Linked DNA regions of Homo sapiens: region 2 is linked to region 1. The links come from fine-mapping of genetic effects on gene expression. A gene starts in region 1. The other region holds a variant in brackets. All regions are shown on one strand. Distances are from middle to middle.

Region 1 (15,237 bases):
CTTCTCCTCAGATACTGAGCTACTCTTTCAAAAGCTTCCAAGTAAATTTCAGGAATAGCTGTTTAATATACAATAACTGTAATTTAGTTTTTTCAGAGTTACACCTTTCGCAACAAGGAAATGCACAATCTAAACTCCAGCATTCTTCATCCATCTCAAACATAGCTTTTTTCCAAAAGGAGTTCAAGATGGTGAGCACAGATTTAAAAAAGCAGTTAAGTTAGCACAAAGCTTATATACAACTGCAGACGGCCAAAGATGATACAAAGAACTTTTAATATTAAACCTGAAAATGGCTAAGATTAAAACTTAATGACACCGATTAAGAAATACACAGATCTATAGATGAAAGTCATCTATTGTCAGTTCATTAAAAAAATTGTATACATTTTGAGTTTCCTTTTTTGGCTAAAAAAAAAAAAGTGACCTTTATGATGAATCATACAGTAGATTGTATTTGTTGGTCGAAAAAGCACAATCTTTTGGTAAGCTAATTCTTTCTTGACATGTCTATATTAGAAAACTGTTAAGGATCTAGGCTATATATTAACCATCTTTCTTTCACTTCCAGTGTCTTTACATATGAAAAAATGCTCATTACTGAATTGGTCTAGCTTTCGACCAACAGTTACATTTCTCTCAAACCTGGCCTCATTTCTGTTAAAACCTAGCTGTATGCTTATTTTTAGATTTGGATGGGCATATTTCATTATAAATGCCCTTTTAAAAATTCAAAATCCATTCATGCTTTTGTGCATCCAACAAGTATTTATCAGGCTCCTAATAAATGCCAAGCAATGACAAGACTACAAAGGCAAATAAGACCCAGCCTTGCTCTGAACTTTACTTACAGACTAGAGGGAGAGACAGGCCAGGCAGCATGTCACAACTCAATGTGATGAGAGCTGTGATACGGAAGTAAAGGCTGCTGAGGAGCATGGAGAATGACCATTGCATGCAGCCTGCGATTAAGGAATATCTGAGCTAAACCCTGAAGAATGAATAGGAGATAACCTGGAAAAGTGGGTGTCCAGGGGTCTATGGGATAAGTTGGCCTGAGTTGAGAGAACAGTGTATGCAAAAACATAAAGATGGAGGTGCAGGCTGGGGAGGGGATCTACCAGTGGAGCGACAACAAGTTTTGTTGGGCCAGCTTTCACAGGTGCCACAAAGGGCTTCTGATGTCCTGTTAAGAATACCTTGGATTTTATCCTAAGAGCAGTGGGGATCCATTTTCATTTGCAATATATTTTTCCAAAAATATATAATGCTTCATCAATTGTATTGTTCTCTCAGTGCCGTATCAAGTCTTAATCAGCTTTATTCAATGCTGTTTTTGCTGTTTTCATTTCCAGTGTTTTTAAATTCTTTATATTTAAGTAAAGAAAACATATTTGTACTTTCATGGGATTAAAAAACAACTGAACTCATTTTGGTTCTCTCAATCACTCCTATTTTTCCTTGCCTCAGAGAAAGAAGCAAATAAAAAAATTCACCACTAAATTCTTCATTTGCAATCGTATGGGCATTTCTCTATGGCATTTTACTCAATATAGAATAAGTAGAGCCTGTGTAACCTCACGCAACTTAACCTCTCTGTGCCTTAGTTTATTCAACTATAAGATGACCGTTACTATCATTTACCTTATAGGATTCTTATGAGGGTTAAATGTGACACCATATGCAGTGTTTAGCATAATCCCTGAATTATAATAATTAAATTGTAGCTATTTTTGTCATTAAGCATTATTGAACAATGTACATATATGAACATGGTTAAACTTTGAATTTGTATTTTATTATAATTCTAATGGTATACACATACATATACATATATGTGTAAAGCATATATATTTACACACACTCATGTTGTACGTTGAAAGTCCTTCCAGAAACTTTTAGTAGAAGTTATCTCTGAGGCAAGGACCTAAATGATCAGGGAGGGGAGAGAATACTTAACTTTTCTCATTTTATTCCTTTCTGTAATCTTTAATTCTTTTTTAACCTTTTATAATAAAAATTGGTGAAAACCCCTGTTGTGCAAAATAATAAAAAAAAAAAACATTATTCTCAAAGCTTAGGATAATTATATGGAAATCATTTTATATAGAGAAAAAAGCATGTGGAACTTAGGTTTGATTGGCCTAGAAAAGAGGAAAATTAAGACTAAGAGAGAATTAGTACCTGTTCTCAAAAATCTGTTGTCTAAGGGCTACCATGTGAAAGAAGGATTAGACATAATTTGTATCTAGAGAACAGAAAGGCTGATTTTGCCCAAATAAAAAGAACTCTGCACTGATGAGAACAGTTCAAAGACACTGCCCCAGTAGCTAAAGCTCCATCACAGAAAGTGTCCACCATTGGCTACCTGGCCAACTTTCCGAGATTTGGTTCCAGGGATTCCCCTTCCAAATCTATGAAATCTGGCAGTCTCCAAGCATTTGAAATTTGAAACTTAAATTGACGTATCTTATTCTGTAATCCAGTAACTGGTGCATCTTTAAACGATTATCCAGAAACATCCAAACTATAACCACACATTAAATAAGTTATATAAATTGGCTGGGCACAGTGGCTCACGCCTGTAATCCCAGCACTTTGGGAGGCTGAGGCAGGCGGATCACCTGAGGTCAGGAGTCCAAGACCAACCTGGCCAACATGGCGAAACTCCGTCTTTTCTAAAAGTACAAAAATTAGCCTGGCTGGTGGTGGGTGCCTGTAATCCCAGTTACTCAGGAGGCTGAGGCAGGGGAATTGCTTGAACTAGGAGGAAGAGGTTGCAGTGAGCCGGGATCACACCACTGCACTCCAGCCTGGGCAACAGAGTGAGACTCCGTCTCAAAAAATAAAAAAAAAATAAAAAATAAGTTATATAAATAAACTTTGCCTCCAACCTACAAGACCCTTCAATGGGCAGATATTCTTAAGAAAGGATTATTAGTACATATATGTTTATTATACTTCCATGAAGTATACAATTATCCAAACACGTATCTCATAATGTTGAAACCTGGTTCAAAATGTGGATGCTGTGTTTAAACACTAACTAAAATAGAATTTGTTAAAGGTAATTTTTGTTTCCAACCAGACTCACACTACATGGTATTTTAGCATTGTTCATTATCCTTATTCTTTTTTTTTAATATATACAATATTTTGTTTATTTATATATGTGAATTTCTATATATTTAAATATATAGAACAAAGCCTAAAAAGTGAGAATCAAAAGAGAAATCCTTACCTATCATTATACTTATTCTTTAAAAAGTATTAATATCTGTTTCCAGATTTTAATTGGACTACTCTTTTTCAGTTTGTCATTATGAACTTGGTAAATTAAGCCCAATATTGGAACACTTTAGCAGCTCAATATTGAAAGTTCTACTTTTGTGGTTCTACTTTCCCTGAAAAGTGGGGTGCACACAAGAGAAATAGGGGGTTTTCGGCATTGGGATAGTGCAGTGCCTTTGAGATATGACAGGATGACCTTTAAATGACAACCTTTTCTAGAGAATAATTTGAATGAAGAGAAAGTGAGCCAGGGAAGGCAGAGAGCTCTGGAAGTCACATCTGGCTAGGAGACTGCTCTGGTATCTACCACTTGAGAGGCTGTTGACTTAGAAAGCCATTACATTCCTCTGAACATGTACCCCTCTTTTATCTAAAAACAGGGGGGAAATCAAAGTAGATAAAAATGTTTCCATTTCAACAATCAGTTGATATTGTGTCTACCCAAAAGTTTAGTTCAATGGGGAAAAACTCAAACCTTTGAGTCAGAAGACCTAAGTCTGGCTGTCATTATCTATTCTACCTTTGATAGGTCTCCTACCACCTCTGAGAATAAGTTTCTTCATATGATAAATTGAAAGGGCAAGATACAAAGTAAAGAAAAACTGCAAATGTATTTTTATATTGTTTTCAGCCTCAACTAAAGCTCTGTGGTAAGAACAGCTCTTATGATTCCACTTTTATAAATGGGAACAGGCCAAGCATGGTGGTTCATGTCTGTAATCCGAGCACTTTGGGAGGGAGGCCGAGGTGGTCAGATCGCTTGAGCCCAGGAGTTTGAGACCAGCCTGGGCAACATGGCAAAAAACCCCATCTCTACAAAGAAAAAAAAAAAAAAAATTAGCCAGGCATGGTGGTTCATACCTGTAGTCCCAGCTACTCAAGAGGCTGAGGCAGGAGGGTCATTTGAGCCCAGGAGGTCCAGACTGCAGTGAGCCATGATCACACCACTGCACTCCAGCCTGGGCAATGGAGCAAGACCCTGTAATCACAGCACTTTGGGATGTCAAGGCGGGCAGATCACTTGAGACCAGGAGTCCGAGACCAGCCTGGCCAACATGGCAAGAGCCCGTCTCTACTAAAAATACAAAAATTAGCCGGGTGTGGTGGTGCACGCCTGTAATCCCAGCTACTTGAGGGGCTGAAACACAAGAATTGTCTGAACCCGGGAGGTGGAGGTTGCAATGAGCTGAGATCGCACCACTGCACTCCAGCCTGGGTGACAGAGCTATCTGTCTAGAAAAGAAAAGAAAAAGGTTACTAGGTTTTTCAGCGAGTAACAATAATGCAGAGGTTTGATCCCAAGTCTCCAAGCACAGACACATGCTGCTTCCCCAACCTATTTAATAAAATTCTGGGGAAATGAAATAAGAGAATTGTCCAAGTGTTCTATTATAAACAGTCTTACAAGTTTAAGGTATTATTAAGACTAAGCTTTAAATCATGTAGCGAGATGTCAACATATTTTTTCCACTCATTAATATTTCTATCAGAGCAAAAGTCCCATAAACCACTGATCCTATCCAGCATGTCACAGTACAATCAGTTGAATAAATGGGCAGATTACTGCCACTTTAGAAATGATCCATGAACTTAATTAGATATACTAAACAAATGGATATATTTACACTGCACAGGCCACACTTTGAGGATCTTAGAAGAAAGAACTATAATTAGGCAAGACATATAGTTGTACTAGTAAAAGAATCCTACTCTCAGAGTCCAATCCTTCATTCAAACCAAACAAATCATTCTCAGTTGAAAATATGCATCAAAATCATTGTAAGATACCCTGTACTTCTACAACAAAGCCACAATATTCCCCTAATAAAATATAGGAGTGAATGATGGATAAGGGGAGGAGAAAAGGAATCCCTGCAGCCTCTTCACACAACACCACTTTGATCAAGTTTAAGAATCAACTCCTGGCAATAGCACTTTAGAGATAACAATATTCTTAATGAAACACTTTCCCATCACAACAGATTATTAAAGCAATCCATTATTCTTCTCTCCACCTATTAAAAAAGTCTGATTTAGTGAAAAAGACAATCCTCAAAAATCCAGGACTTACCATAGGCTGCTCTGTGTTATAGTTACTGCCCCCACTGAGAGTCCCCTAGAGGCCAGAAGGATCTCATTCACTACTGTGTTCCCTCACAGTGCTTGGCACATAGCTGGGCTCAGAAAATGTATGTTGAACTTATTCTACAATGTAACATATTTCAAAAACCAATTTCAACTCTTAAAATAATAATCCCTATGAAAAAGGAAAACATATGTATTTCATATTTCTTTCATTTTCCTGAAGTGAGGCTCCTTCACACTCATTTGGAATATGTTTGTTTTCATTTCAATTGTTTACATGCTCACTACATGTAAACATTATTATGGTGGCATCATTCAGAGAACATGAATCTTTTTAAGATTTAAAGGAGATTACATCCAGTCAAAAGATGGATTACACTTTGATATATCACAGATTTGAAAAAACATACATTGAATAACCACATACAACATCAATAAAAAAGTCCTGCCTGGGCGCGGTGGCTCATGCCTGTAATCCCAGCACTTTGGGAGGCCGAGGCAGGCAGATCACCTGAGGTCAGGAGTTCAAGACCAGCCCGGCCAACATGGCAAAACCCCGTCTCTACTAAAAGTACAAAAATTAGCCGGGCATGGTGACAGGTGCCTGTAATCCCAGCTACTCAGGAGGCTGAGGCAGGAGAATCGCTTGAACCCGGGAAACGGAGTTTGCAGTCCGCCGAGTTCGCATCCCTGCACTCCAGCCCGGGCAACAGAGTGAGACTCCGCCTCAAAAAAAAAAAAAAAAAAAAAAAAAAACAGTCCTGAAACCATCAATCCCTTGGGGATCATTTTAGTTTTATTTAAAATGGTCTAAGAGAATGTCCCATCAATATCTTGGTTAACTTCAATAAGAGCTTCAATGAGTAGAATTTGTTTTCAGCCCAGGACATTTGAGCATCTGTGGACAATATTTCATCCCACTTTGGGACAAGGAAAATAGAAAATAATAGCCCAAGGACAGCCATTACACAATTAAAATAAACAAGCATTTGTTTGCAAAGCAGGGCATTTAAATTCAGTTTGATTTCATTACTGTTCAAACGACCCCATATGAATCTTTCCTCTGGAATCCTCAGTTGTCCAGTATTAAAGTTACCAGTGTAGAACCAACCACTGAGGACTTCAATTATAAATATCTCTGTAAACAATTCTCCGAACCTGGTTCCCTGCAGAAGTAAGCAAATAGCTATAATAATACTCCTAGTCCAACATGGATATATTAAATGACTGTTTTGCTATTGAAATCGCAAATGCCAACAGCAGTTCCAAGAGAGGACTCTAACTTGCCAAACCTTTTATAAAAGACAGTTGCAAGCCCCGATACAAAGTTTAGAGGAATTTCCTTGTCCCTACATGTAAAGGTTTATGAAATCTGTACACTCAAGCAAAAGGACAAACAAGATCAAAGCCAACACATGAAATAAATTTCATTGTGCAAACAGTAAAAGCTGTGTAAAAGAGCTCTAGATCCCAGGTTAAAAACTGCAGGAGAAAGGTAACATTAACCCTAGCAGACGGCTGAGTTAAGATGTGGCAGAGCTTTACAGAATTGCAAATAGCATCAGCATTGCAAGAATAACAATTGGAATAAATACCGTCTGCATGCTGCAAAAACAATCAACGCACATGCTCCTTCACCTCTCCCCCTCATCCAGCTGGGCAGTGAAAGCAGCTGCCTCTCCCAGCCCTCCTCCCAAGCCGTTCTTCGCCCCACCCGCTCCCCTCTCTTCTCCACCCCTCCCCTCCTCCTTCCCTCCCCCTCCCCGCCCCCAGCTGCCGTATTCAGCAGTCTAGAGAGATTAGGAGGAGCTCGCTACAGTCTCTGGGCCTCAGGACTGATCTAACGTTTCGTAGCTCCCTGGATGAGAGAAATTAGAGACTCGACACCCAGGTGGTATTAGAAGCCTTCGCCTCCAGCCCGGCTCTCTCGCAAACCGGGGCTGGGGGACCACGGGGGGGCCTCGGGCCGGGCGACTGGGAGGCTCCGGAGGCCGCGCGGGGCTCAGCGCTGCACTCCCCTCGGGCAGCGCTACCTGAGCTGTCCATGGTGCTGGCGCGGTCCGGAGGCTGTCGGGCGGGACTCCGCGCCGCTGCCCCGGCGTTCACTCTCTGCTTGCCGCCAACCCCGCCGCTTCCCGCACTTAAGTCCCCGTTACTGTCCACCAGCTGCAAAGATTCATAACCATCGTTGCTGGTCTTTTTCCGGTAGCTCCCGAGGAGGCTCATGGGCAAGCCCGGAGAAAAGAGAAAATAATCAACCTGGGAAGCGAAAAGGGAGATGGAAGGTGGAAAGGGCTGAAGAAGGAATTAAAAAAAAAAAAAAATTAAGTGCCCGACATGACGCAAAGAGGAGGGAAAAGAAGGAGCGGCCACCGGAGAGAAGCTTCGCCGGGCGAGGCGAAGCCGCCGCCCTGGGCTGAGCTCGGCTCGGGGCGCCGGGAGGAGGGAGGGAGGGAAGGAGACGCGGCCGGGCGGGGGCGCGCGTCCTCTGGGCCAACGCCGCGGAGCCGCCCGGCCCTGCCGAGCTCCGGGCCCCAGGCCAGCACCTCCTGGCTGAGGAGTGCCCGGAAGCAATCCTATAGGTGTCGCCGCGTCGCCCCGCCGCGCAGCAGGGCAGCGCCAAAGCCGCTGGCCCGCGGGGAGGGAAGGAAAGGGAGGTAGGAAGGGAGGGGAGGTTCGTGAGGAGGGGGGTTGAAGGGAAACGGGGCGGGGTGGTCGGGGGAGGGGACTACTACGACGTGGGTTGGGAGGGTGTGTTCGCACGCGTGTGACAGAGAAGAAAGGGGCGAGGTATCTCGGCCTGCGAAGCTTTGAGGACCAGGGGTCTTGTGGTAAAATCCAGACACACCCATTTCATGCAACTTAGCCTATTTTCACCGGAAGATTCCGCCAAAGCCACCAGGACGGTAACCGTCCTAGAGAACTGACTTGTAACTCAATTCAACAGAAAAAGAATGCATGTTAAGTGCCAGAATATATCTATGCTAGGATATAAAGGAAGAGCAATATTTTGCACATTCTCCAGAATAGGGATGATCCCTAAGGGAGATATCAAAGAGTTGGGTATTCTAATACTAGGAGGCAGCGTCCGTTCTGCCTAGAGAGCAGATGTGACTGTTTAGAACTCTTTGTTGAGCGAATAAACTGGGGAGAAGGGCAAGGTTAAGTCCGACGCATTTTCAGATCCGCCACCATTTACCTTAGGACCTGGAGAAAAGACTGTTTCAGTTAGCTAGCTTGAAGGCCTGCTTGGGAAGCAAGATAGACAAGGATTTTTTTTCCCCATCCTCTAGCCTCACGCCTTATTTTTCTTTCACAATTCTGGCCAAAGAAAGCAGTAACTCATAATCAGAAGAGAATTTATCATGAAGTTAATTAAGCTGTGTACCTAATTTTGTATCTGTCATCGTGTATTCTTAAAAGAAGACTCCGACATTGTATAAGTTCTGGATCTGAACAAAACCTGGATAAACTCTGGTAAGTCTTAAAATGTAATTATCGAATGTTTATTTTCACCTAAAATAATAAGATTTCAGAAGGATTGCTCATTCTCATCATCTTAGGTCAAGATCAAGTAAGTCTTGGTTAAAAATTATCATTTTCTCTACTAAAACTTGGAGGGACTAAGTGAGGCGCCCGTCAAGAGTCATTTGACAGAGTTTCCTCACCAAAACAGGAAAAAAGTACGTGCATGTAAAATGTACTTGAGCCCATACACAAAGCCAGCTTTGCTTTCTTCTCATCTTACATGGTTTTCTCTTGCTGTCCTTATATCAATCACCTAAGGACACAAAATCAAACAATAGCATCTAAGAGACTTCAGTCCAGATGATTTGGGTCTCAGAAAGTTTCCGGGAAGCTCTAGCTCTACACAGTTCTACATAAAATAAATTGGACTAAGAGACATTTTCCTGTACAAGGATCACCCAAACACAGATTCTTGTAGGAAGAGCATCAACCAGAAGAAGTCCAAAGAAATGTTTTCTAAATCCTTCCAGTCCTTCTGGGGAAACCTAAACTTCCTGGCCAGTTGCTTTCCCAACTGCATTCTTTGATGAGGTATGGTGTGACCTGAATTGCAAATCAGAGTTAATGCTCATTTATAACAAGATCAAACAATCTGAATGGTGGCAGGAAAAACTGCAATAAAAATTTTAAAACAAATTTTTATACTTTCAATTTTCCAAATCTGTCAGATTGAATTATTTTAGTTACTTGACTAAAGTAATAATTCTGTGAAGTCTAGTAAATCTTTTCCCATAACATCTTAAATAATCTTTCTCTGTACTTTTTCTTTTAATTCATTACAGACACACAGGGACAGTAAATACCTAGTGTTCATCATGTGCCCTGACAAATGCTGGACTATAATCATTGGATTAATAGAATTTAGAACCAGCCTCAGTGACAGACTGAGACCCTGTCTCAAAAAATAAATAAATAAATACAGGATCATTTTTGAAAAGTGAAAATTATTATTTTCAAAAAGAGCACTTTCAGTTATTTTTGCTCAACTTGCAGACATATTGCTGAAAGAAATTATAGATGAGACATATGCCTTTGTATTTTTCAATATCTATCTCTGGAGTTTGCAAGTGTAAAGAAAAATCTGAATGGGCTATAAGAATTTTATCTTTATACTTAATATAAATAAAGTCAATCAGGATAACTATTAATAATCCTATAAAATTGAAGATATAAGAAGCATATTAAGGCAGGAAAATACAATAACTAGGTTAATTTACAACAGCCTAAAAACTAGGGCTTGGGCCTAAATTTGGATATGCACCAATTTCAACATTAAAATTTTCTTTACTGTGCTAAAGATCAAATTCATATACTTATCAATGAATATCTCACTGTTCTACTCTATAAAACAAGCATAATATGAGTACCATCATTATATAGAAGAATTAGATTAGTACCTAACATATATATATATATATATATATAGAGAGAGAGAGAGAGAGAGAGAGAGAGAGAGAGAGAGAGAGAGAGAAACAGATTGAGAGAGAGAGTAGTACTTAACAATTGTTCTCTATTACCATTATTGGTCTGTCTTGGGTGCAGCTTTAAGCTCAGCGCCTGGCAGTCTTAGTTTTTCAAATGGGAAAAGCTCAATAAAGGCTAAATATTATTTTTTCCAGGGATATCCTAATGGAAAATTGTCTTTGTAACTTTGAATGAGAATTTGGGCTTAAGGGAGGTGGCACTGGTCAAACACAAGGTGAACATTTACAGCCTAACTCTTGGTTTTCCAAACTCAAGACTACTTCATAACTTATCTCAAAAATACTACATCATACATGAGACAACGGCAAAGGATAAGATGCCCTCTTCTGGGGACAGCAATCATTCCCTTTGTCTTTTCTCTTGCTGCCTTCAGGTGCTTTATTAACTTGATGAAGATTAGTGACACTGAGGAATACTGAGGAACCAGGCTCTATTCCACCCCATCCCCTTCATACACACCTCATTCCAAATGCTATCCTGTCACAGCAGATGCCACATCACTTTTGGGGTGGGCTAAGAGATCAAGGTATGTATGCCATGACCTATGTAGGATTTTGATCTGTGATTTTCATTTCCAGAGAATATAATACATTGATTAAAATTGAAGTTGCCAGCCAGGTGTGGTGGCTCACACCTGTGGTCCTGGCACTTTGGGAGGCTGAGGTGGGCGGATCACGAGGTCAGGAGATTGAGACCATCCTGGCTAACACGGTGAAACCCTGTATCTACTAAAAATCCAAAAAAATAACCAGGCGTGGTGGCAGGCACCTGTAGTCCCAGCTACTCAGGAGGCTGAGGCAGGAGAATCGCTTGAACCCAGGAGGTGGAGCTTGCAGTGAGCCAACAAAGCGAGACTCTGTCTCAAAAAAAAAAAAAAAAAAATTGAAGTTGCCTATGATTGATTCTTAGTTCCAATGACTCCTGGCTCTATGACTTTGGGCAAGTTACTTAACCTCTCTGCCTCATTTTTCTCCTCTGTAAAGTGAGGATTATAGTAATGCCATCATAATAAGGTTATAGTAAGAAGTAAATTAGTTCCTAACATATAATAAGTGCTTAACATATGCTATCTATTATTACTATCATTCCACTTCTTTTTAAAATGTCACTTTTTCAAAAATGCAACTTCCCATCTGTAAAATTAAGTTTAAATCTGCCCAGCTTACCTAAGAGATTTGTTATCATTATGACTATGATAACATAAAAGCAGTTTGTCAAATGTGAACTGATTGTTTTGCCCTGAGTTTTTAAATATTCACGTGTATGTATTTCCTATTGGATTTGGACTCTTTGAGGGCAAAAATCCATGTTTTGTTCATGTTTGTGTCCCCCATGACACTCCAAAGAGCACCTCGCTCTCATTAGATATTGAGTAAATATCTACTGAATTAATGAATAAACAAAAATGTCATGGCATTACCTAGTCCAGTGATTTAAACTATATGCTGTAGCCGATGAGTAAATTATAAAGTATTTTCATAAAAATGAAATAGGTTGGAAAACATCAGAGTTTGGAACGCAGTAAGATATTGTTTCTTAAAATATTGTTTTGGGTTTGTGTGATATGTATGAGTGTGTGTATGTTTCTGCTCAGTAATGATATAAATGTATTTCTCACTGTGTGTCCTGATTATAAATGTTTTTGAATGTCTATGTTATGGGACAATCTCTGGTACTAAGAGGTCCTAGTGTTCCCAATTATGAATGTCCTATACACTGTGACATCTGAATTCATTTGGCTAATTGGACCACAAAGAGTTTTGGCTAAGCAGACAGTAAATGAAGCCAGAGCTTCTACTCTGTTCTCTCTGTTACAAAATATATTATGATCAGGTTTCTAAAATGCGTCTCTTCAATTTTCTGTTTTAACAAACATAAATCAATGCACAGTATTGAAACTTACTTTGGCAATGTGCCTGAGGGCCATAATCCAGATTATCTCCTTATTGAATAAGGCCTATAGATATACATAGTGCAAGGCACTTCAACTGGGGAACATCAAGCCATCTCTGACTCCCAGATGTGTTTTGTCGGTCCTGTACTTCTTAAAATGAAAAACATTTTAGTTTAGATGCCTTTACAGAGGGTATATAGGCTCCAGTCTGAGGACCATAGTTCACTACTACTTCCCAATGTAGAATACTCAGCCTCCTCCACTCATTCCTATTACCAGTTAGCCCTTGCAGGCATTTGAGTTTGAGACCTGCAGTGTAGTGGCAAAACCTTAAGGAGAAATACCCCCAAGAGAGATGCCAAAAGACACATCTTTAGGCCACAGTCCAGAAGAAAGCAAAATAGACCGAGAATCCTCTCCTGACTCTGCTCTTAATCAGCAGGGTGGCCTTGATCCATTCTCCTTCTCTCAGCAGTAAAATCGAAGATGTGGAATTACATGATTCTCTTCAGTTCTCAAAACTTTAGTTGTCACTTCCCTCTCTCCTCCAAATGATGTCCATAGGGGAAAACCATAGTCATTTAAGTGCTACAGTTTGCTGTGTCCCAGTTAATCAAGGTTTTGCTATAGAAATGCATGCATAAATAGTAGCAGCTGTCAAGAGCGACATATAAAGCAACACACAAGATAGAAGAGGAGGTCTGCTGGAAAAAATCGGGTGAGCTGATGGATGACATTTAACAGAAGAAAATCTGAACTATTCCTATAATGTTTCTTAGGAGTGGGGATATCTGTTCTTGGTGTTTGATGGGGTTCTGGGTCTTCCAGAAAATAGGACAAATTTCCCAGGTAGGGCTTTTTTTTTTTCTTTAAGATAACCCAATATCATGAAACCTGTGTTTCCTTGATGCTCTAATAGTAACAAAATAACTGCCATTGATTATTTATCATTTGCCAGGTGCCTTACCTACCTTAAATCTAAAGATTTTATTCTTATTTTGAGGCAGACTTGGAGAGGTTAAGTAACTGGCCCAGGGTTACACAACAATCAGTTAGGATTCAAACCTCCATCTTTCTGATCATGCTTTGGCCACTGAGGCAGCCTAAAGAGGCAATTCCACTGATCAAAGTGAAAGCTGAAGGACATTTAGGTCATTCCTTAGATCTGACCTGCCTTACTAAGTGTGGTCAGTGGAAAATGGTTTGGGCAACTTATGGAAATTGCACTTTGGGAGGCTGAGGCAGGCAGATCACCTGAGGTCGGGAGTTCGAGACCAGCCTGGCCAACATGGTGAAACCCCGTCTCTACTAAAAAACAAACAAACAAACAAACAAAAAATTAGCTGGGCATGGTGCCACGTGCCTGTAGCTCCAGCTACTCAGGAGGCTGAGGCAAGAGAATCACTTGAACCTGGGAGGCAGAGGTTGCAGTGAGCCGAGATCATGCCACTGCACTCCAGCCTGGGTGACAGAGGGAGACTCCGTCTCAAAAAAAAAAAAGAAGAGAGAATCAAATGAGGCGCATGGAAGCACATAATAAACACTAAAGCCCTAAATACTGCATGTTATCAAATCTAAGAAACCATCCATTTTAAGTCACAACATAAGAAAAATATGCTACTAAAGAAAGTATGACATACTATCAATCTTAAGATACCCCAAGATTTCTTAAATGTTAATATGTTAAAAAACTTTTATAACCGATGTAACAAATGTTATTATTTGACCGTATATTAGTCTGAGAATATATTTGTCAATTTATTATTCACGTATTTTGAGCAACTCTGGCAGGTGAAGACAACACCCATCATGTTTTATGAGGTCTAGCACAGTGCCTGCCAAGTAATAGGTGTTCAGTAAGTATCTGCTAATTGAATGAAAATACCAAAAAACTTTATTTTGGAAGCCATCTTTAGTTTACAGAAAAAATCGCTCTGGTTTCTTTAATGAGCTCACTTAAAAAACACATTTCCATTTGCTAACATTTAACTTATCCTTGACTTTTCAAGGACATGCTCATAGTATAACAACGTTTGCCTTAGTTCATTTTGTGCTGCTATAATAGAATACAGGAGACTGGGTAATTCACAAAGAGCAGAGATTTATTTCTTACAGTTTCTGGGGCCAGAAAGTCCAAGATCAAGGAGCCTACATCTGGTGAGGGCCTTCGTGCTGCATCATCCCATGATAGAAGGCAGGAAGGCAAGAGAGGATAAGAAAGGAAGAGACAGGCCGGGCGCGGTGGCTCACGCCTGTAATCCCAGCACTTTGGGAGGCCGAGGCGGGTGGATCATGAGGTCAGGAGATCGAGACCATCCTGGCTAACAAGGTGAAACCCCGTCTCTACTAAAAATACAAAAAATTAGCCGGGCGCGGTGGCGGGCGCCTGTAGTCCCAGCTACTCGGGAGGCTGAGGCAGGAGAATGGCGTGAACCCGGGAAGCGGAGCTTGCAGTGAGCCGAGATTGCGCCACTGCAGTCCGCAGTCCGGCCTGGGCGACAGAGCGAGACTCCGTCTCAAAAAAAAAAAAAAAAAAAAAAAGAAAGGAAGAGACAGCAAGGGGGTTAAGGGGGAGGCAAACTCCCTTTAATCAAGAGTGCACTCCCATAGTAATGGCATTAATCCATTCATGAGGGTGGACCCCTTATGGCCTAATCACCTGTTAATGGTACCACCTATTACTGTCAGAATGGCAATTAAATTTCAACATGAGTTGTGGAGGGGATATTCAAACCACAGCAATGTTATACTGTAACATATATATTATATATATTATATATTATATTATATAATATATAATATATATAATATTATATATTAATATATCAATATAATAGTATATTATATTGATATAATATATTAATGTATATATTAACATAATATATAAATGTATAATATAATATATAATAAATATATATAATACGTATTATATATATTTTTTATATATATATATA
Region 2 (15,237 bases), 98 kb after region 1:
TAGACTATAAAAAACGAAAACGTCAATGCAAACTATGAATTTTAGTTAATAACTTTTCTATATTAGTTTATTAACTGTAACAAATGTACTACACTAATGCAAAATGCTAATAATGAAGAAGCTAGGGTGAGGGAGGGGATTTTCCATTTAATTTTTATGTAAACCTAAAGCTTATCTAAAAATCAAGTATATTAATTTTTAAGTAGTGCTAATTCATTCTTTTTACTGACTATATTATATTCCAAGATGGTATAAATATTCTCCAATGTATTTAACCATTCCACTACAGATGGACATTCATTTGCTTTTTTGAGATTTTTTTGGTTTTGTTTTTTGCCCACTACAGCAACATTGAAACAAGCATCAACCTATACATGACCTAACCTGCTAATGCTTCCATTTCCACAGCTATTCTCTTAAAAGTAGCCTGAATTAAATTATTTACTTAAAATTCTGAATGTACATTGTTATGTTGCTTTAAAAAGAGGCTAGTAATACTTCAGCTAACAAAAAAAGGGAGTATTATTTTCCCCAGATCCCACCAGCAATAGACTTTTAGTTTTATTTTTTAAATAAAATAAATATAATTATATACATTGTATACATATATTTATCAGTAATAAATATAAAATTAAAAATTTTTATATTTTGATTTTGCCAGTCCAATAGATCCAAAGTGATATCCTATTTAAATACTTAAATGTCCCTTCCCTGACAACTACATTTGAACATTTAAAAAATGTTTTTTGGTCATGTAGATTTGTTCTTTTTTGAATGGTCTACTCATATCCTTTTCTCCACTTTTCAATGGAAATTGTTTGTCTTTTTCTTGTCAGGTTGTGAAAGCACTTTGTATATTCTTACATGTACATGAGGTGGATTGAAGTCCAGGTTATATACCCTTCCGCTAGGAGGGTGAATCCAACGGCGGCTGAGACGATCTTTAAGTGTTTCAAATGGAATATTCAAACTGATCACTAGATCCACTTCACAGATTTTGTCCAGGGCTTCGGCTTGTCCTAATGTCCTAGGAAAACCTAAATGCAAAGAACAAAACAAGTGAAATGCAAGCTATTGCCCAGTTCCAATTAGTTCTTGAAACATTTTCAGTGACAGAATTAAATCTGCATATACCATTCTAAAAGGAGCTTTACACTATCTGGGTGATGGGATCATTTGCATCCCAAACCTTAGCACCACATAATAAATCCATGTCACAAACCTGCACATGTATCCTCTGAATCTAAAAGTTGAAATTATTTTTTAAAAATGAGCTTTAACCAAGAATATCTACCTCCATAAATGTAATATTAAAATAAAATATGCTATTCTATAACCTAGCTTCTGCATTTGGAAGACTCAAAGATTAAGGAATCATATGATAAAAATTTAAAATGCGCTAAACTAAAAATCACTAAACCAGTCCTGGCTCTAGTCCTTTCTCTGCTCTTAACTACCTGTGTCACCTCAGGCAAGTTACATCACCTCCATTTCCACTTCTGTTAAAAAAGTGAAGGGAAAGCATTTTATCTTACATCATTTTAACACTAGCCATTTATGAGTAGGTTCTTAGGTTAGCAAAAATAACTATATACATTTATTTTAGAGTCTAAATCAATTAAAGTATGATCCTCCATCCAGACCTTCACCTGAGTCTGCACTTTAACCAAGGTAGGCAATCTGATTAACAGCATGGTGACTATCATAAATACTGTATTGTACACTTGAAATGTGCTCAGAGTTGATTTTCAGGATTCTCGCCACACACATAAGAAATCATACCTATGTGAGATGATGGATATGTTAATTATTAAACCTAACTGTGGTAATCATTTCACACTGTATGTATCAAAGCATCACATTGTACACCTTAAATATATACACTTACTTGTCAAGTATACCGCGATAAAGCTGGAAAAAATTTGAAATTGTTTTAAGTCTATTTAAAGATTTTAAAAGGAACTAGAGTTTTTAAATCTATTGGGATAATGCAAAACTTATTCTTCCTACTTTTCTAAATGTGTGGAAATAACAAAATTAAAATTTGGGCTCATGGGCATCTCTTCCTTTTCTGATTTAAGTATAAGCTCTGGGTGACCTCAGGAGTTAGGTCATATGACCCCAAATTACACTTTTCTTCAGAGATTGACCTGTTTAAATGTAACTCCAGGTTTGGCTCTGGTGGGGCTACACAGTGGTAACTTTTTCCTAAACAAATCACTCCAGTTTATCTGCTCTGACAAAAATCTTGCTGGATCTACTATCATTTTCTAAAAAAATGTCTTTATATCCTAGTTAAAGAACCAGGTAGATGAAGAGCTGAAAGTATAATAAAAGATGCAACATCCAGAAGAGAAACTTTAAATCCATTCAGATAAGGATACCAGCCCATCTCTACCCTTTCAAAATTGGAAGTATCAAGATGACAACTTAAAAATGGGTATTCATGGCCCTGTAGCACTTACAATTCAAAGAATTCCTTTCCTTACTGCAGGAAGTTGGTGGCTCAAACATGAATATGCAGCACTGCATTGAAACCCCTAAGTCTGTGTGAATGCCAAGCTGATTTGAGTGCTCACTGAGTTGAATGTGACAAAATCCACCCACGCCACTGCTTCAGGTACCTATTGCTTGCTAACTCTCCAATGCTTCCTCCAAAGCCTTCCTTACTGCCTGTGAGCCATCCACATAAAGTCCCCTCTCAATGACTGTCAGGTTCTGCCTTTCCCTGGACAACTCACTCTTCACTACAATGTCAAGATGGCAATTGGAATAAAAAGTTGCCTGCAAGGCCAGGCACAGTCGCTCACACCTGTAATCTCAACACTTTAGGAGGCCGAGGCAGTGGGATCACTTGAGGCCAGGAATTCAAGGCCAGCCTGGGCAATGTAGAGAGAACCCATCTCTACCAAAAATAAAAATTAAAAAATTGCTTTTACTGGTGATGCATGCCTGTAGTTACAGGTACTTGGGAAGCTGAGGTGGGAGGATTACTTGAGCCCAAGGAGTTCAAGGCTGCAGTGAGCTACAATCACACTACTGCACTCCAGCCTGGGTGACAGAGTGAGATAGTGAGCTCCTGTCTCAAAAAGAAAAAAAAAAGAAGAAAAGAAAGAAAAGGAAGACAGAGAGAAAGAGAAAGAAAGAAAAAAGAAAAAAAAAGAAAGGTACCTACAGCCCAAACAACCTCAAGATCATCTATAAACTCTTTCCCCGCAAACCTCTGCCACATCAATGAAAAGCATTTTCTAAAGCAGTGGCTTCCAAAGTTATCTTCACTGAAGTACAGAAAGAAAATATTTGAACTTTGGGGAAGCGGGAGGCAGGGAGGGCTTGGCTCATTCTTTTAAAAGAATGTCGTATTAGTGGCCGGGCATGATGGCTCATGCCTGTAATCCCAGCACTTTGGGAAGCCCAGGCCGGTGGATCACTTGAGGCTAGGAGTTCGAGACCAGCCTGGCAAAACTCCATGTCTACTAAAAATACAAAAATTAGCTGGGCCTGGTGGCGCATGCCTGTAATCCCAGCCACTAGGGAGGCTGAGGTACGAGAATTGCTTGAACCTGGGAGGCAGAGGTTACAGTGAGCTGAGATTGTACCACTGCACTCCAGCCTGGGTGACAGAGTAAGACTGTCTAAAAAAAAAAAAGCACTGCAATCACATTAGTGAAACTGCATGGGTAAATAAATAATTTATACATAATTATCCATATATTGAAGATGTAAATTCAACCTTCTCACTGATAAATGTAAACAAAGAATTTTAGAGATCCCTCTTCTAAGACCTGAAAGCTTAGCCACAGTCTCTGCCTTGTGTTCTAGCATCACTAACTGTGACCTTGACAAGAAAACAGTCTTTATATCGGATAGAGGTTGAGAGCTGGGAGCGGGGGAAGCACTAGAAAAGAAAAGAACAGGAAGCTCTAAAAGATAACATAACATTAGTTCCTCCAACAAATAAAAGCTCAAATCTTATTGGCTAGTTTCTTTGTCTAATGAGGGTAACAAGCCAGTCTGCTCAGCTGAGCTCTAGAGCCCTCTGGAGGAGTAAAATGCAAAGTGTACAAAATAGGCTGAACTCAGCAAGAAAAATTTCAAAAACATGTTGGATAGCACCTGCTACCTACTGGACTCTCACATTCAGACCTGCTAAAGACCACAGATGATAATTAATTCCAGTGATTTAGACTACAAGCAACAGGTACCTAAAGCTGGTTTAGAAGGAACAACTATAGAAATAAACCATTCCACAACTTCAAGGGTTCTCCATTTGATGAGCACATCAAAATCACCAAGGAAGACTCAAAAGAAAAAATCAGGGTCGGACATGGTGGCTCACGCCTGTAATCCCAGCACTTTGGGAGGCCGAGGCGGGTGAATGACCTGAGATCAAGAGATCAAGACCATCCTGGCCAACTTGGTGAAACCCCATCTCTACTAAAAATATAAAAATTAGCCGGGCATGGTGGCAGGCGCCTGTAATCCCAGCTAATCAGGAGGCTAAGGCAGGAGAATCAATGAAACCCGGGAGGCGGAGATTGCAGTGAGTAGAGATCGTGCCACTGCACTCCAGCCTGGTGACAGAGCAAGACTCCGCCTCAAACAAAAAAAAAAGAAAGAAAGAAAGAAAAGAAAAGAAAAGAAAAAAAATCAATGATGATGGATGCTCAGATCCTGTCCCAGACTTTCCTAGAGTAGAACATCTAGGAGTGAGAGCAGGACTTGGGTATTTCTAATATTTACCCCGATTCATGACGAACCACCAAACTTCTCAGTGACAGCAACAGTGCAAGTATGACACTAAACACTTATCTGCCCCATTTTTCTGTCAGGCTTAACTCTACTTCTAAGTAGGTAACAAACCACTTTGAAGAACAAGTCGCCTCTATCTCACTTCATCAGAAGTGAGCTGGGAAGGAAAGTCCCAAACACATGCAAATCTTTCCAGATTTACGAACTCCCTAACTTAGTCACCTGTTTGTGACATTCTTCTCCAGAGGCTCTCATGTACTTGTGCAGTATCTTACCTCTAAGGAAAGTGGTGGCAGGGGAGGCAAGCATGGTATATTAGTAAGAACAATGGACCAGAAATAAGTCAAAGATCTGGGTGCCACTCACTATTTCAAAAGTGAGGAGAAATAGCCTTAAGGTAGACACATTCAGGACTCAATAACACATTAGGTATAAGCACAAGCTTTGGGAACAGACACACCTGGATTTAATGCCTAGATTTATCTCTACCTGTAATCAGACGCACCTGGATTTAATCCCGGGACTTTACCTAGCCGTAACTGTGAGAACTTTGGCAAGTTTCATATACTCTCAGATCCTTAGTTTCATCTACTCTCAGATCCTTAGTTTCATCAGATATGAAACAAGGGGCCGGGCACAGTGGCTCACGCCTGTAATCCTAGCACTCTGGGAGGCCAAGACGGGTGGATCACTTGCGGTCAGGAGTTCAAGACCAGCCTGGCCAACATGGCAAAACCCCATCTCTACTAAAAATACAAAAATAAGCCAGGCATGGTGGCCCACGCCTGTAATCTCAGCTACTCAGGAGGCTGAGGCAGGAGAATCACTTGAACCCGGAGGTGGAAGTTGTAGTGAGCCGAGATCGTGCCACTACACTCCAGCCTGGGCAACAGAGAGGGACTCCATCTCAAAACAAACAAACAAACAAACAACAACAACAACAAAAATGAGGGCACATTAGTTTGCTAGGGCTGCCACAGACTGGGTGGCTTAAACAATCCTGGAAGCTATAAGTCCAAGACCAAGGTATCAGCAGGGTTTGCTCCTTCAGAGGCCTCTAATTGATTCATAGATGGCTGTCTCTCCTGCTGCCTTCACATGGTCTTCACTCTATGTATCCACGTCCAAATGTCCTTTTCTTATAAGGACGCCAGTCAGATTGGATTGGGGCCCACCCTAATGACCTCATTTGAAGTTAATCACCTCTTTACAGACCTTCTCTCTAAATATAGTCACAATCTGAGGTACTGGGGGGGCAGTTAGGGCTTCAACACAGGAATTCGGGGTCAGAGGACACACCCACAACTCAGCCCATGACAAAGGGTAATGCCTACTGCACAGGGCAGTTTGAGGATTAAAAGTGACAATCCCTGTCAAATGTATAAGATGCAAAGTGCTGGGCACATGGAGAGTGTGCTGATTAATAAACGGTTGCTGCTGCTCTTGGTAGAGCTCACCTAGGAGCTCAGCTCATTTCCCAATTCAATAAAAACGCAGCAGCAGGAAAGAAAGGCCCTCATCCACCCACATTTAATTCCTTTTCTGGGTTTTTTCTAAGAGCTTGGGGAGTCCCTGGTGCTCTCTGTGGCAGTTACAGCTCAGCACAGGTAGTCATGAGTCACAGGGAGCTCAACCCCAGCACAGCACAGAACCTGGGCACAACACAGCCACTACTTCCATAAGC[C/T]TCCTTCCACTGGTTTTCAGTTTGCCCCTTTCATCACCTACCTGACTCTTTAATAGTAAAGCTCCTTAATCTACTTTCCTGATCTGGTTCAATACCTTATCACGGTGAGGTTTCATTTGGGTTACAGATGGATAAATTCAACACAAAGACTCACTCTTAAGCTGTTGATAATACAAGTGTACCTTGAGGTAGCAACATGGTATAACTTCCAAGGAACTAGTGCACGTGCAGGCTGTGTTAACTGTAACTAAGGATCCAAATCAAGAAAAGTGGCAGCTTTGTGGTATTTTCTGTAGTGAGTGCCCTTTTCTAGAAGCATTCACAAAGACAAGACAACTGTGCCTTGGAAGGAGCTGGACTACATGGCTTCCAAGTCTGCAACTCAGCAAACATAGCCTTTATGCTTCACATATACTAAACTGTTCACAAAGCATTTCTATAAATTTACTTACCTCTTACTCTTCTCATTAACCCTATGAGGTGGATAGAGAAGTTATTAGCCTCAGTTTAATTAAGCTTGGATTCAGTGAAAGCCAACAGCACAATGCATATGACATCTGGTCCTTAGATTTCTGCTAAAGTGTTCTCTCTTTCTATGCAACGATGCTGCTGTATCAGGCATATAAAAAGTAATTGTTAAAAAGAATCCTCCAGCCTGGGCAACATAGTGAGACCTCATCTCTACAAAAAGTACAAAAATTAGGTGGGCGTGGTAGTGCCCGTCTGTAGTCCCAGCTACTTGGGAGGCTGAGGTAGAAGGATTGCATAAGCCCAGCAGGTTGAGGCTGCAGTGAGCTGTGACTGTGCCACTGCACTACAGCCTAGGTGACAGACCAAGATCCTGTCTCAAAATAAAATAAAATAAAATAAAAAGTTGGGTGGGTGAGCATGGGTGGATCCTAGGCTGAGCACAGTGGCTCATCCCAGCACTTTGGGAGATTAAGGTGGGAAGATCACCTGAGCCCAGGAGGCAGAGGTTGCAGTGCACTGAGATCGCGCCACTGAATTCCAGCCTGGGAGACACAGGGAAACCCTGTCTCAAAAAAAAAAAAGAATCCTAAAATGTTACCCTGTCTATCTTTCTTCTACCTACCTAAAAAGCAGGGCATCATGGTGGCATCCTTATAACACAGTTACCATTTGTAGAGCATCCCTTATGTGCCAGATATATTACATGCAGAGGAAAAGCCAAAATTGTACAGGCTTGCAAAGGCCTACCCATCTGGGCCCCTGTCCTGCCACCTCTCTCACCTCATTTCTCTGTCCACGTCTCCGTGCCAGCCATACCGGCATCCTTGCAGCTCTCAAGCAGGTGCCCACCCTGGACATTCACAGTTCATATTCCCTCTGCTTTTGCTCCAGATACCCATGTGTATCCTCAGCTCTTCCAAATCTTGGCTCCAGTGGTGCCTTGTTAAGACTTTTCTAACTGTCCTGTTAAACTGCACCTCTACCACACGCCAACACTCCTATTCACCCTTTATTTTCTTTTTGTTTTCCTTCAGAATATTCATCACCATTTGCCATATATGATTTACCTTATTTTTTAAGTGTTTCTATTCCTACCAGAAGTAAACTAAATTAGAGTAGAACATTTTAAGTTCTTGTTTACTGCTATAACCTTAGTGCTGTAAGCGTGCTTTGCACACAGTAAGTGCCGAATGAAAATATTTGTTGAATGAGTAAATATTATCTCAAAAGTAACAATAATTCTGTCAGGTAGGCCTTATCCCCATTTTAAAACTGTAAAAACCAATGCTGGGAAAAGTGAAGTGACTTGCTCAAGATCACATGATAAGTGACTAATCTAGCTTTAAATCAAGTGCTATTTGTCTCTACAATCACACGCCATGTACCACACCATGCTGTCTTCCTCCTGAACAGAAAACTGCAGACTGTGAGAAGCAAATTCTCAGACAGGGAGAAATGCCTGATCCTGATGTCTCTGACAGGCAGCTTACAAAACGACTTGAGAAATCTAAATCTTGTATGGCTTCAGGAACCGCCTGATCCAGTGCTACACGCACAGACCAGATTTTCTCCCCACATACACACAACAAATGTTCTGCATCTTGCTTTTTCTCTTTGGAGATTTTTTTCTTCATATTACATATTACTGTCTCATTCTCTTCTGCAGAGACAGGGTCTTGGTTTGTGCCCTAGGCTGGTCTTGAACTCCTGGCCTCAAACAATCCTGTTGCCTCAGCTTCCCAAAGTGCTGGGAATCATTCTCTTTAATAACTGCAGAGTACAGCATGGTTTAGATAGAGCATAATTTAACCAATCCCCTAATGGTGGACATCCAAGTTGTTTCCAGTCATACTGCAATGAGCATCTTTGCACATGACCTGAAACACATGACTAAGGAAAAGTTGATTCACAGGAATATAGATCCAGAGGCAAGCTGCCTATGTTTGAGGTCCAGCTAAGCCACTTACTTGTGACCCTGGTTGCTTAACCTCTCTGTGCCTATGAAAATAGTAATACCTAATTCATAAAGTCATTGTGAGAAATAAGCAAATTACTATATGTAAATTCCAGAATAGTGGCTGGCTCAGGATAAATTGCATGGCAGGGGGCGGACGGTACTGGGAAAAAATGAAGGCAATGTGGGACTGGAGGTAAAAAGACAAACAGCAGGTTTGAGAAGAAAGATATGAAGGATAAAGATAGATTTGAGCTTTTAGAAAAGGATGAAAGACACACTAGGAGACAGAATAATAATACCACCACCACCATCACCCAACATGAGATTTTCACATAGGAGAAAGTCCTCGGTAACAGAAAAGACAAGAAAGAAAGTAGCATCCTAAGGGGAAATCTAGGTTTTCTTTAATACAGAAAGTGGAGACTTCTGCAAATAGCATGTGTATGTGGCGAGGAGGGTGGGGGAAACTGTTAAGGAAAAAGGATTCCAGAGGGTACGGTGAGGAGGGGAATCAATAATAAAGAAACCGAAGCGGATATAAAAGAAAGGAGAACAGGAGGATGGCTTACCTTCCTCTCAGAAATGAAAGGCAGAGTTGGAAGTGACTGGCCTCAAAGAGTGCCACTTTCAGGGCGAGTGTGGTGTCCTAGACCCAGCAATGGTCACAGAGGCCCTGGGGATAGGCTAAGGCTGCCTCCAAAGTTTGGGGTGCTGTGTCACAGGTCCTGAAAAGGGGCTCTCTCTCACTCTGGTTAGACATAAGGGCAAGTGCTCTACCAAGTAAGTAGTAGTATTTATTCATCTACAAGACTTTTAAAATATGGATACTCAGCCGAGAAGAATGGTCAACACCTACAGTCCCAGCATTTTGAGAGGATTTCACTTGAGCCCAGGATTTTGAGACCAGCCTGGGCAACAAAGTGAGATCCTGTCTCTACAAAATAATTTAAAATTAGCCAGGCATGGTGGTATATGCCTTTAGTCCCAGCTACTCAGGAGGCTGAGGCAGGAGGATCGCTTGAGTCCAGGAGGCCAAGGCTGCAGTGAGCCATGTTCATGCCACTGCACTCCAGCCTGGGTGACAGAGCAAGACTCTTATCTCAAAAAAAGAAAAAAAAGAAAAAGAAAAACATACTTTTCAGCCACAGATCCACTTTAAGGCTTCAGGGCATACAATATGAAATGGTGTCTTAAATGATGGATTCTATAAGGTAGCATGGGAGCTTCAGCATTCTTTAAATTGATCTACATCTGTGTCTCAAGTTGGGCTAAACAAATCAAAGCAATTCAGGTGTACTTCTCACACCAATCAGCCGCCAAGAACAGAATGTCAGATAAGGTACAGTCAGACCAGCACATTTTAAAGCATTTTTAGCTGAGGGTCATTATCCAGCCAGTAAGATCCCCTGTCGGCAGGGATCACTGACCAACTGGAGTAGAATGCACCCTCAAATTTTGTCAACAGGTGGCAGCATTTATAATTTTTCCATTTAGAGAGAATTACAAGTTGAAGTATGCTTTTACATTTACTAAAAGTAACACTCCAAGAAAGGCTTTCTAAATGACTGACTAGCGTTATTCTAGGTTCCTTAATTAGCCCATTCCAAATGTGAATATATTCCATTAATTGTTGAAGAAGTAGAAATGCCAAGAGCTAACGTAAAATAAAGATCATGTTTAAGCATGGACTGCTTGCTTTCCTCCCTTTAGCTCCTCAGAGGGTCTGTTCCACCGCATGCTTTATCATGCTTCCACACCAGACTATCGCTATCCCTCATCCCCTAACCAAGCCTAGAAAAGCTGCTCACTCTTTTCATTCAAACAGCCAATCCAGATTGAAAGCTGAAATTTTATATTTTTAAATTTCTTCCAGAATCTGTCTTGTTATATCACTAATTATGACATCTACAGGTTGTTTTTTTTAAGACCCCCCCCACAAAATATTTACTAAGTGCAGTGAGATATCATTAAATTCCTGACTGGTATTGTGTTCCCAGCAGTGCTGGCCACTGGGCCTTGGCACCTGCTCCTCCCAGCCATGCCAAGAACCCAAGGAAGGGCAGCTGAAGCAGGAGGTGCTGCGGCAACAAGCTGAGGCAGTGGTGGGGAATAGAAAGTAGGACACTTCTGTTTTTCTAATTTGGAGCGCATTCACTCTGCAGGAAGGGTGCAGAGCCAGAGTCCACCACCACGTTCCCAGGCAGCAAAGCAAGCCCTCCGCCTGATGGAAATGAAAGGGCAGTTCAGAAGGGCAACTTCCAACATCCGCCTGGGTTTGGCAGCTTGTGAAAAGGCTATGCGACATCAGCCCCCTTCCTACCTCCATTAAGATCTGGAGCTAACATAGTTGCTTCGGACCGCCCATCTCTTCCCAGTTGTTGAATAAGTAAGAACCAAGTTACAAATGCAAGCCATTGTTCATGACAATCAATCACTGATGATTAGCTTAAAGTTGAAAGCAGGTGGTTGGTTATTCTTCCACAGCCTTCCCTAGCCCAGGAGTTCAAATCACTCACATCACCAACTGGAAGCCTTAGTAGCAAATTAATTACCACCAAAACCTGCTTCATAAAGGCCTTTTCTCTCTCCTATCGTATACTTTCCTTATCTGTTTACACAATGTTTATTTGTACATGTATCAAAGACCTCCATATTCCATGTCATCCAGTTATTATTAACAGATGGTGAAAAGAAGCAGCAGCTGTCCTACTACGAAAAAGTAAAAAAACAACAAATGCCAGCAAGGTTGCAGAGAAACAGGAACACTTACACACTGCTAGTGGGAATGTAAATTAGTGCAGCCACTGTGGAAAGCACTGTGGAGATTTCCCAAAGAACTTACGACTATCAGCAAAACTATTATTGGGTATACACCCAAAGGAAAATAAATTGTTCTACCAAAAAGACACATGTACTTGTATGTTCATCACAGTACTATTCACCATAGCAAAAACATGGAATCATCCAAGATACCCATCAATGATGGACTGGATAAAGAAATGTGGTATATATTCCATATACCATGGAATACTATGCAGCCGTAATAAGAATGAGATCATGTCCCTTGTAGCAACATGGATGCAGCTGGAGGCCATTAGCCTAAGAGAACTAACTCAAGACCAGAAAACCAAATACCATGTGTTCTCACTTATAAGGGGTAGCTAATCATTGAATACACATGGGCACAAAGGTGGGCACAGCAGACAACAGGGACTGCTTGAACCAGGACCAGGGTGCAGGTTGGAAAGCTACCTATCAGGTACTACGCTACCTTGGTGACAGGATCATCTGTACACGAAATTTACCCGTGTAACGAACCTGCACATGTATCCCCTAAACCTAAAATGAAAGTAGAAGGAAAAAAAAAAAAAAAACAGCAGCTGTGCTCCAGATGTCAGCAACTGAAGTTTATGCTTCCTCCTACCACTCTGTGAGCCCCACACTCCCCACAGTGCTGAGAGCTCTAGAACCCACTTCCTGCTCATGGCAGCTTCCTGGGACACTAGTTATAGATCCCAGGGTTTAAGAGATTTGAAATAAGTGGGTCCTGCCCTCAGGAAGCTTATAGGTTAATAGAAAAAGACCCCAAAGCTGAGATGGGAGGACTTCTTGTGCCCAAGGGACTGAGGATGCAGTGAGCTGTGATCGTGCCACTGCACTCCAGCGTGGGTGACAGGGCAAGATAGAGGCAAGAAGGGAGGTAGGGAGGAAGGGAGGAGGAAGGAAAAGAAAGAAAAAGAAAAAGACTTTAAAAACCTAGATATGCTACAATCACTACTTGGTGATCCACTGATAAGCAGAAGATAAGTACTCCAGAAAATTTGGTTTTAAACCACAAGTGTGCATCTTCAAAGAGGCTTAGGGAAATAAAAGATAAATTCCTTTCAGGTAGGAATTCTTGGGGAAATTCCCAAATGGCTTCACTGAGATCCTCTGGGATCATCGCGAGGATTTTTCCTGAATAAAGACACAGATAAAACTGTTACCTTATAACCCTTGTTCTTAAGTAAGTTATACTAAAATCACTGAGCCCTTTTCCCATAAGGGAAAATGCATATTCCATTGAGGAAGGAGCTGTCATCTACAAACCCCTTGCTTAAAGCCTCTTCTGTTTAAGAATTCTGCGTGGTTTGTTTCTTTTGTTTTGTTTGAGACAGGGTCTCGCTGTCACCCAGGAAGGAGGGCAGTGATGCGATCATAGCTCACTGCAATCTCTAACTCCTGGGCTTAAGGGTTCCTCTTGCCTCAGCCACCCCCCACCCAAGTAGCTGGACTACAAGCAAACATCGCCACACCTGGACATTGGTTTTGTGTGTGTGTGTTTGTGTGTGTGCGCACGCACGTGCACACACGCACACGCAGATGGGGTCTGGCTTTGTTAACCAGGCTGGACTCAAGTGATTCTCCTCTTTGGCCTCTCAAAGTGCTGGGATTATAGGCACAAGCCACCGCGTCCGGCCTGCTTGCTTGTTCTTTGAATATAAGTCCCCATACACAAATTAGGGGAAAACCGGTCCCACTGTATCTCAATTAAGACTAAAGAAATTTGTAAATGATTTCACCATAGGCCCATATTTTTATCCCCAGAAAAGTAACAGAATTCAAGTATACCTTCTAAAGGCTCAGCTACAGATTGCAGGCATGACCTGTCTGCAACTGGATGTACAAGTCTTTACTATATGCCAAGCACTGTTATAGGTACTGGCAATATAGCCATGAACAAAATGGATATAACCTGTGCTTTCTGGGGCCTGCACTGGGGGTGGAGGGATAGGGGAGGAATGGAAAATCGAATATGCTCATAAATACATAATGTCACATTATAATAATGTAAGGAGAGTGACGTAGGTAGACAGAATGGTACAAGACAGACCTTCTGAGGAAGGGTTATCTGTGTAGGGATCTGTATCCAGCGATCCACACGGATATCTGGAGACAGGGCACTGCCGGTAGAGGGAACAGTAAGTGCAAGGGCCCACAGCACAGGTGCATGGCACATACAGGTTGAAAAATAATCAAACAGTTATGGAATATAAACAAAGTTTCATTCTCTCCTGCCCTCAAAATAAAAGATATGAGTGTGCCTGAAAGTAGAAGGAAACACAGAAGCAAGAAAAATTTAAAGTATAAAGACAAAAAATAGTCAATAGAATATCCAATATAACTAGTATTATTGAAATAGAAATCTGAACAAATGACAAAAAGGATATAACACAGGAAAACTTCCCTGAAAGGAAAGAACTGAATTGCAGATCAGGAGGATACACTCTATATAGGACATAAATAAATAACAACAACATCAAGTTATTCTACTGACTTCAAGTATGAAGAAATAACTCTTTAGAAAGTCTATACGGGGTGAAAAAAAATCACCTTGAAACAGGTGGAAAAGGGCTGTGCATAGTGGCTCACGCCTGTAAATCCAAGTACTTTGGAGAGCTGAGGCAGGAAGATTGCTTGAGCCTAAGAGTTCAAGACCAGCCTGGGCAACATAGCAAGACCCTGTCTAAACAAAAAATAAAAAACTAGCTGGGCACAGCAGCATACACCTGTAGTCCTAGCTACTTGGGAGGCTGAGGCGGGAGGATCCAGGAGTTTGAGAGTGCAGCAAGCTATTAACACGACTGCACCATCGCACTCTTGCCTGGGTGCCAGAGCAAGACCTGTCTCTATTTAACAAATAAAAATAAAATAAAATGGGGAACCAGGCCAGAAGAAAATGTAACAATGGTTGCAATGTTTTGAAAGACACAAGAACAACTCAAAAATATCAGTTAGCTAATTTTAAAAAATTAGACATTCTCAAACATATTATGAGCTCTTCTGCAGGGAGGGGAGAGGAGGGAGGGACGAAAAAAATATCCAGCAAAATCCAGTCAACCCAGTGTTGAATGAAAAAGCTGTGTTAAACAGCAGTGCACCTTTACTCAGATACAGTTCACGTACCATACAATTAATTCATTTAAAGTGTACATTTCAATGATTTCTAGTATATTCACAGAGATATAACCAAGAGATTAATCAAAATAAAATGAGTAGAGGTGGGTAAAAGAACCAGTGCACAGAATTCACCTAAATTTTTTTAATGTAAGAAACTGAGGAATTACATTTGCAGAAGAAAACTGTAATAAATTTTTAATGACAAAAGCCAACAAAAACTGGGAGAGATGAAGGGTAAGAGGAGGTTAAAGGAAGTATAAGTTCCCTCAGGGTTCACTGTGGAGACAATGCCTCCTGTCTAAATTTGAAATGTGAATTTAAAACAAAAGAAAACAAATATGTCAGTCTCCCAGTGGCTTTTATAATGTTGAAGAGCTCTCACAGGAATTAATATCCTTGGTGATGAACAAAGATTTATCTGAAGCTCCGTAAT

Evidence for each region.
Region 2: its variant is fine-mapped to the expression of DNAJC6 in whole blood (INTERVAL, PIP 0.98).

What each region holds. Positions count from the first base shown.
Region 1 is chr1:65,302,111-65,317,347 of GRCh38, reverse strand. DNAJC6 (DnaJ heat shock protein family (Hsp40) member C6) reads right to left here and starts at 7,805. Exons shown (of 19, transcript NM_001256864.2): 1 at 7,410-7,805. The coding sequence starts at 7,602. It overlaps DNAJC6-AS1 (DNAJC6 antisense RNA 1), which reads left to right and starts at 8,114. Exons shown (of 3, transcript XR_007066155.1): 1 at 8,114-8,853; 2 at 10,763-10,915. LOC112268227 (a long non-coding RNA gene) reads right to left here and starts at 6,104. Exons shown (of 2, transcript XR_002958317.2): 1 at 1,200-6,104. RefSeq lists a silencer at 13,575-13,753.
Region 2 is chr1:65,204,554-65,219,790 of GRCh38, reverse strand. It overlaps AK4 (adenylate kinase 4), which reads right to left. Exons shown (of 5, transcript NM_013410.4): 3 at 865-1,037. Among named protein-coding and RNA genes, the nearest start is that of AK4, 64 kb to the right of the region's middle. RefSeq lists enhancers at 6,165-6,264, 12,254-12,333. The variant C/T (reference allele first, on the strand shown) is at 6,437.